Regions from separate parts of the Homo sapiens genome. Here region 2 is linked to region 1. The links come from fine-mapping of genetic effects on gene expression. A gene starts in region 1. The other region holds a variant in brackets. All regions are shown on one strand. Distances are between the middles of the regions.

The links. PIP is the estimated chance that this variant, and not a neighbour inherited with it, causes the effect. A credible set is the group of variants that fine-mapping cannot tell apart.
Region 2: its variant is the best candidate, but not a certain one, in a credible set for the expression of WEE1 in lymphoblastoid cells (GEUVADIS, PIP 0.56).

What each region holds. Positions count from the first base shown.
Region 1 is chr11:9,571,305-9,575,689 of GRCh38, forward strand. It overlaps WEE1 (WEE1 G2 checkpoint kinase), which reads left to right and starts at 2,366. Exons shown (of 11, transcript NM_003390.4): 1 at 2,366-3,205. The coding sequence starts at 2,630. RefSeq lists an enhancer at 1,592-2,444 and silencers at 2,019-2,368, 2,389-2,598, 2,889-2,988.
Region 2 is chr11:9,619,671-9,624,055 of GRCh38, forward strand. No RefSeq gene overlaps it. Among named protein-coding and RNA genes, the nearest start is that of SWAP70, 42 kb to the right of the region's middle. The variant TTTTGCCCTCA/T (reference allele first, on the strand shown) is at 2,048.

The DNA of each region.
Region 1 (4,385 bases):
CTGGGGAGATCGAGGCTACAGAGCCGTGATTGCACCACTGTACTCCACTTTGAGACAGGGTGGACAGAGTGAGACCCTGTCTCGAAAAATAAAAATTTAAAAAAAAGGAGTGGCAGGAGGGGAAGTGTTGGAGCAAGGGTTCTGAAAATCACTCCTTGGCTTTGGCCACTGTGGATCATTGACTAACTCTCCTTATACAAGTCTAGAATTCTTGTCCTCCAAGAGCTTAAAATTAAGTTTGCATGACCATATAAAAAACACATTTATACACCAGTTAGCAAATGTTAGGAGAAAAGACAGCTGTTGATCCTTCACTGTGTCTTCAGTTGTGTGATCTCAGGAAATTCCCGATTTGATGTGTTAAGTACTACCGTGTGTTTCAAGAAAAATTCAGCTTGAGTTTATTTAGCCTTTGAAAAGCATTAGAACAACATATATGACAAAGTGTTAATATGCATAAAGTGCTAACAATAAGAAAAATAGGCAATAGAGATAAATGTAAATTATCATTAAACCCATGACAACTGTTCAACAATATGAATCAAAACAACAAAACCACATCAACGAACATCCACTGATGTCCTGAATTCACAGAGTGTGCTCTAATCCACTGCTAGTGAGAATGTATTGTGTTTCTGGAGGGGGAGTTTGCCAGTTTATATCCTTTGACTGAGGAATTCTAACTCCAGGGAGGTATCCAAAAGAGTATTTTAAAAAGGCCAGGCGCGGTGGCTCACGCCTGTAATCCTAGCACTTTGGGAGGCCGAGGCGGGCAGATCACCTGAGGTCAGGAGTTTGAGACCAGCCTGCCAACATGGTGAAACTCCGTATTTTGCATTTTGTAAAAATACAAAAATTGGCCAGGCCTGGTATGTGCTTGTAATACCAGCTACCCGGGAGACAGGAGAATCGCTGGAACCCGAGAACCCGGGAGGTGGGGGCTGCAGTGAGCCGAGATCGCGCCACTGCACTCCAGCCTGGGGCGACAGAGCGAGACTCCGTGTCGAAAAAAACCAAACCAAACAAAAAACATGGAGAAGGAAGCATATACACCACGGGGTTGTTTACAACAGAAAACTGGAAGAGGCCGGGAGCGGTGGTTCACGTCTGTAATTCCAGCACTTTGAGAGGCCGAGGCGGGCGGATCACTTGAGATCAGGAGTTGGAGACCAGCCTGGCCAACATTGGGAAGTTCGTCTCTACTAAAAATACAAAAATTAGCCAGGTGTGGTGGCAGCCGCCTGTAATCCCAGCTACTCGGGTGGCTGAGGCATGAGAATCGCTTGAACTCTAAAGGCGGAGGTTGCAGGTTGTAGTGAGCCGAGATCGTGCCACTGCACTCCAGCCTGGGTGACAGAGCAAGACCCCGTCTCAGAAAAAAAAAAAAAAATAAATAAACAAAGAAAGAAAAAAGAAAACTGGAAGAAACGTGTAAGTGCATTAAGGGACAGATTAAATCAGTTTAACGAAGCACTAGGGAAATTTTTTAAAATTGCGTTTGAGTTTGCCGCGAGCCGGGCCAATCGGTTTTGCCAACGCATGCCCACGTGCTGGCGAACAAATGTAAACACGGAGATCGTGTGCCGGGCACTTGGTTTCGTGGTGGGCAACTGTGCTGCTGTTTCTTTTGGCCGCGGACAAGGTCGGCAGAGGTGGACCCCTGCTTGGGAGAGCTCTTCTCGCTGTGCTGACACCCGCCCCTAACAGTCACCCACCCCGGGGAAATAATGGGGCTCGGAGGCCTCCTCCCAGCCAGTGTCCAGCCTAAGCACATCGGCTCCCGCAGTTCAGAAAGGTCCCGAGGCCCGAGTCACCATTTCCGGCTCAGACCTCGACCCTGAACGTGGCTGCCCACTGCCACGCCCACTACGCCCCAGTGGCTCGCCCCAGGGGACGAGGGGCAAGAAGCGGCCTCCGAGGGCAGCGGCCGAAGGCCATTCGGTCCCTGGCTCTTCCCAGCTCGCAGAGACCCGGAGGCGCTGCCCGGCCGCCTGCCCCTCTTCAGATCCCCCAGCACCGGAGGAGCAGCGAGGGGGGTGCGTCCAGGCCGGCTTTCGGGTCGGCTTAGGCGAATCCAGCTCTCTTTTGCCCCTCCCAGAAGGCCCAGCCCCGTCCGGGCGGTGTTCGGGCGGCGCCGGGCCGGGCCCCCCGCCGCCCCAGGCTCGCTCATAGGCCCGGAACACCACAGCCCGCCCAGACTTGGCTGGCGCCGAGCCGGGGGTGGAGCCAGCGGGTTCCCGCCAAAATCGCGTAGCTGGTCCTTCCCCCGCGGGCTACGTCGCGCCCTCCTTTTTTTTTCAAACCCGGAGCTGCACTGGGATTGGTGGACTGGGCACTCACGTGGTTAACGGTCGCGGGAAGCCGCGGAGCCCGAACCTGAGACTGGACCTGAGGAGACCTCAGCCTCGGTGCTCGGGCCGCCCCGCCTCTGCCGGAAAGTCCGCGCCGCCGCTGCCGCCACCGTCCGCAGCCCGAGCGCCCCGGAGCCGCAGGCCGCCGCCGCGCAGAGACGCCGCGGCTGCGACTAGGCGCGCCCAGCCGCACGTGGCGGACCCGCCCCCAGGCCCGCAGTGTCCTGGACCCCGCAGGCCTCCGCTCTCCTGTCCTCGGCCCCGTCCCCAGGGCCGCGATGAGCTTCCTGAGCCGACAGCAGCCGCCGCCACCCCGCCGCGCCGGGGCGGCCTGCACCTTGCGGCAGAAGCTGATCTTCTCGCCCTGCAGCGACTGTGAGGAGGAGGAAGAAGAGGAGGAGGAGGAGGGCAGCGGCCACAGCACCGGGGAGGACTCGGCCTTTCAAGAGCCCGACTCGCCGCTGCCGCCCGCGCGGAGCCCCACGGAGCCCGGGCCCGAGCGCCGCCGCTCGCCCGGGCCGGCCCCCGGCAGCCCCGGCGAGCTGGAGGAGGACCTGTTGCTGCCCGGCGCCTGCCCGGGCGCGGACGAGGCGGGCGGTGGGGCGGAGGGCGACTCGTGGGAGGAGGAGGGCTTCGGCTCCTCGTCGCCGGTCAAGTCGCCGGCGGCCCCCTACTTCCTGGGTAGCTCTTTCTCGCCGGTGCGCTGCGGCGGCCCAGGAGATGCGTCGCCGCGGGGTTGCGGGGCGCGCCGGGCGGGCGAAGGCCGCCGCTCGCCGCGGCCGGACCACCCGGGCACCCCGCCACACAAGACCTTCCGCAAGCTGCGACTCTTCGACACCCCGCACACGCCCAAGGTGAGAGCGGCGGGCGCGGGCACCCGGCGGCCGGGGCCGCGGCGCCGGAGGGGCCAGCGCCGCTGCCTGGGTTCGGTTACAGAAGCGGCCGGCCGCTCCCCCCTCGCTTTCCTGCGCCGCCCCCCAAAGTTGGCAGCCCTTGTGTTTGGCCCTGCCCCGAGGTTGTCCGTTGAGATTATGTAACTGAACAATGGGCCTCGTCTGGAACTTCATCTTACAAAGGGGCCGATCGGCCCGTCCGGGTGGCCAAGGATTTGCCGCCCGTTGAGTCCGGGCCGCCCCGAGCGTGTCAGCCCCGAGTGCGGCACCGATAACGCGGTTCGCGAGGATGCTGGAGGGTGCCGGCCCGGCCACCTGACACTCCCGAGCCATAGGATGCCTTTTAAACGCGGCGATCGGGCCTGTAATTTGGGCGGCGCGGGCAGAAGGAGTTTAAAGAAAAATAATTGTCCCGCCCTGATCGTGTCGTGTCGTGTGGCGTGGATGGGGGAAAGGTCTGGGGCATGCAGGGAGACTACGCTTGGACTTGGGAGTAAAGGCTGGCCTTCCAAGCATTTACAGTCCTACAGACTCATCCTAAGTCCAGGCAGTACTGAGGCCTGTTTCTGGACAAGGTCTTGGCCCAGCATTTGTTTTTATCGTGGGTTTGCGGTGCCCAGAGTTTGGCCGGCCTCCGTGTGATTAGGAACATCCTACCGTAGATAAGGTATCTTAAAGAAGGAGGTGTTCAGCACCTGTGTTTTGAAAGGCCTTCGAGTACTGCGCAGATGACCACTTTTAAAACTGCAGATTTTAAAGCTGATACTTCCAGAGATTAAGACAAGCCTCGCATTTGTAAGGTTAACAGGGAAGATGCACCTTTTAAAGTGAGTTTGTTTTGTTTTCAATGTACTGTTTGTCATCAGCCTAGGCAATCTGTGTGCTTTCGAGCTGTACTGTTTATTGGCCGACTTGCTCAAGGCAAAATCCCTCTGGAAGTGAGGGGAGGAGTCCAGCGGAGGTGGCTATGGAAGCCCTATCTAGATGGGGGAGGGGAGATTTTATGGGGCTCTCGGACTGCTTTCTATTTTTGGATGGGTTGAAAGAATTTGTTAACTTTTAGCCACTAGAATGAACTTAGTTTTAGGCAGCATTTATATTCTTTTTAGGGTTAGAGGCAGATTTTACTTGGCTATTTTTT
Region 2 (4,385 bases), 48 kb after region 1:
TGAGCAGGACATTTGTCTCACTCTCACGGAGCTACCAATATGTTGCAGGAGCAGCCAAATATCTCAAGGTGGGATGAATGAAGTGAACTGGCTGGTGCTCCTCCAGTAAATACTGTCCTTTTATTGCCCAGGGGCTCTGGACCTGCCTCGGGTCAAGAAGGGCACAAAAGCGGGATCAGAAGACCAAAGCTTTCCAAGCAGCTGTGTGGGGCAGCTGTGCAACTGAGACCATGCTCAACCTTCCCTTCCTCATCCCCTGTGAACTCTCTGAGGCCAGTCAATTCCTGGGGTGGGACATGCTGGTGGGTGGAAGGAATGTGGGGAAGAGCTACCAGTTACACCAAATAGAGATTCATCCAGGTTAACCAGCAGGTTTTTCAAACATGCAAGTCCCTGAAAGGACTGAAATATATGGGTACCAGAGTTAGTAGAGCCCCAGAAGGGGAATCTGCCTGCAGGGTCTATGCACAGAAGTTCTCTGGGCCCTGGGTCTCAGAGGCATCTGGAAACACAAAGAGTGGGGCAGTGTTATTCCTTACTACCCTCAGGGTGTGAGTGTACCTGCAGCTGAGCACATTGAGTTAGGCCTTCAGGGCAGGCACAGATCCAGATTTAGACCCAGGGTGACCCAGGAGTTAGGCTTCCTCACCTTTTGACTCCTCTCCTCTCTAGCTAGTCTATGTTTTTTCCCACCTGAGGTGTGGTATTATAGAAATCATTCCATTTTGTAACTGCAATAGCTTTAAGAAAATGAAATGGGTGGGACAAAGGGGTTAATTTTTCACTTTTTACATTTTGGTGTTATATGAGTTCTTAAAACGAGCCAGGGTTATTTTTGTTATTTTATTTTATTATTTGAGATGGGGTCTCACCCTGTCGCCCAGGCTAGAGTGCAGTGGTGCAATCATGGCTCGATGCAACCTCAACTTCCCCTGGCTCAGGTGATTCTCCCACCTCAGCCTCCCAATAAGCTGGGACTATAGTTGCATGCCACCATGCCTGGCTAATTTTTGCATTTTTTGTAAAGATGGGGTTTTGCCATGTTGCCCCTCAAATTCCTCAGCACAAGCAATCCTCATGCTTTGGCCTCCCAAAGTGCTGGGATTACAGGCATGAGCCACCACCGCGCCCGGCTCCAAGAAAATTCTTACCAAAACGTAACAAATTAATATTACTTGGCCGGGCGCGGTGGCTCACACCTGTAATCCCAGCACTTTGGGAGGCTGAGGCGGGTGGATCACGAGGTCAGGAGATCGAGACCATCCTGGCTAACACGGTGAAACTCCGTCTCTACTAAAAATACAAAAAATTAGCTGGGCGTAGTGGGGGGCTCCTGTAGTCCCAGCTACTTGGGAGGCTGAGGCAGGAGAATCACTTGAACCCTGGAGGCGGAGCTTGCAGTGAGCCGAGATCACGCCATTGCACTCCAGCCTGGGTGACAGAGTGAGACTCCATCTCAAAAAAAAAAAAAAAATTACTTATATGTTTCATTATTTCATATAGAGGAAACTTATGTAGCCCAATATACTGAGAAAGAATTGGAGACATAAAAATATTAACTTTAGTATGCCTTGCCAATATAATTTTTTGTTTGTTTGTTTGTTTTAGAGACCAGGTTTCGCCATGTTGTCCAGGCTGATCTTGAACTCCTGGACTTAAGCAATCCATTCGTCTAGGCCTCCCAAAGTGCTAGGATTACAGGTGTGAGCCACCATGCCTGGACCAAATATAATTATTTAAAAATAAAATGTTTTATCTTACTATGGGCTTTATAGTTTGTCGGAACCTTAGAGCTACAGAAGCAACTCATTCAACTTAGGAAAATATGTGTCATATAACCAAATTGACAAAACCAGTCTTATTATCAAATTAATAGCCAATTAGGCTTCAGTTTTCAATTTCAATAAAATGTGTGTTTCCTTATCTCTTGTCTGAATTCTAGTTCTAAATTGAATAACTATCCAAGGCAGAGAGCAAGGCCCTGAGTTTGTGCTGGGATGACAGAAGGTGCTGCCGTGTTTGGTATTTCCTACTGAACTTCTATTTC[TTTTGCCCTCA/T]TTTGCCCTCATAGGATTCTGTTTTGGAAGCAAAGCATTCTTTCACAGCAGTCTAGAGATGGGAGAAGGAATAAAGCTTGTTATTCCTTGGTCAATATCTCTAACATCTCAACATGTGCTAAGTTACACTGTTTCCACTGTGGTGCTTCAAACTTAACAGAAATATGTATAAGACAGGGAAAGACTTGAAGCCTCCTATAGGTGTCCTGTTTAAAGAGATGAATTTTTAATATCCTGGACCAATTTGCAATATAAGATTCAGGATGGGTAAGAGATGTACCTTTCTTTTGCAAAGAGAAAGGGAGATTGTGAAAGGGGAGATGGTGGGTCCGGAATTGGTGGGTTCTTGGTCTCACTGACTTCAAGAATGAAGCCGTGGACCCTCGCGGTGAGTGTTACAGCTCTTAAGGTGGCGTGTCTGGAGTCTGTCCCTTCTGATGTTCAGATGTGTTCGGAGTTTCTTCCTTCTGGTGGGTTCGTGGTCTCGCTGGCTCAGGAGTGAAGCTGCAGACCTTCGCCGTGAGTGTTACAGCTCTTAAGGCAGCGCGTCTGGAGTTGTTCGTTCATCCCGGTGGGCTCCTGGTCTCCCTGGGCTCAGGAGTGAAGCTGCAGATCTTCACGGTGAGTGTTACAGCTCATAAAAGCAGTGTGGACCCAAAGAGTGAGCAGTAGCAAGATTTATTGCAAAGAGCGAAAGAACAAAGCTTCCACAGCGTGGAAGCAGACCCCAGCAGGTTGCCAATGCTGGCTCGGGCAGCCTGTTTTTATTCTCTTATCTGGCCCCACCCACATCCTGCTGATTGGTAGAGCCAAGTGGCCTGTTTTGTCAGGGTGCTGATTGGTGCGTTTAAAATCCCGGAGCTAGATACAAAGGTTCTCCACGTCCCCATCAGATTAGTTAGATACAGAGTTTCCACACGCAGGTTCTCCAAGGCCCCACCAGAGCAGCTAGATACAGAGTGTCAATTGGTGCATTCACAAACCTTGAGCTAAACACAGGGTGCTGATTGGTGTGTTTACAAACCTTGAGCTAGATACAGAGTACCGATTGGTGTATTTACAATCCTTGAGCTAGACATAAAGGTTCTCCACGTCCTCACCAGAGTGGCTAGATACAGACTGTCGATTGGTGCACTCACAAACCTTGAGCTAAACACAGGGTGCTGATTGGTGTATTTACAATTCCTGAGCTAGATATAAAGACTCTCCACGTCCCCACCAGACTCAGGAGCCCAGCTGGCTTCACCTAGTGGATCCCGCACCGGGGCTGCAGGTGGAGCTGCCTGCCAGTCCTGCGCCGTGTGCTCGCATTCCTCAGCCCTTGGGTGGTCGATGGGACTGGGCGCCGTGGAGCAGAGGGTGGCGCTCGTCGGGGAGGCTCCGGCCACACAGGAGCCCATGGAGTGGGTGGGAGGCTTAGGCATGGTGGGCTGCAGGTCCCGAGCCCTGCCCCGTGGGAAGGCAGCCAAGGCCCGGCGAGAAATCGAGTGCAGCGCCGGTGGGCCAGCACTGCTGGGGGACTCAGTACACCCTCTGCAGCCATTGGCCCGGGTGCTAAGTCTCCCATTTTGCCCAGAGCCAGCAGGGCTGCCTGGCTGCTCCGAGTGCGGGGCCCACCAAGCCCACGCACACCCGGAACTCCAGCTGGCCCGCAAGTGCCGCACACAGCCCCGGTTCCCGCTCATGCCTCTCCCTCCACACCTCCCTGCAAGCTGAGGGAGTGGGCTCCGGCCTTGGCCAGGCCAGAAAGGGGCTCCCACAGTGCAGTGGGGGACTGAAGGGCTCCTCAAATGCCACCAAAGTGGGAGCCCAGGCAGGGGAGGTGCCGAGAGCAAGCGAGGGCTCTGAGGACTGCCAGCACGCTGTCACCTCTCAATGGGAAAGGACAACAGGCATGATGGTAGACACTGAAGGTGCATCCTTAGGTCAATTTTATGCAAAAGTACCTATGGGCTGGCATGGTGGCTCATGCCTGTAATCCTAACACTTTGGGAGGCTGAGGCAGGAGGATTTCTTGAGCCCAGGAGTTCAAGACCAGCCTGGGTAATACAGCAAGACCTGGTTTCTACTAAATATAATTTTTATTAAAAATTGAAAACAATTTTTTAAAATTAAGAAAAATGTCTATGGAAGTCAAAGTTCCCCTCAAACTGTTCATTCTTGCATAAACCTTGATATCCCAGAGACCAATATCTCAAAGCATAGTTATAATCACTGACTTCCCAACCAAAGGCTTCTGCAGCTTCTGCTTGCCTGCAGTTGTAGCTCCTAATCTCATTATCATCAGAAGCGTGATGCTTCAGACTAATCATAATCATGATTATGATT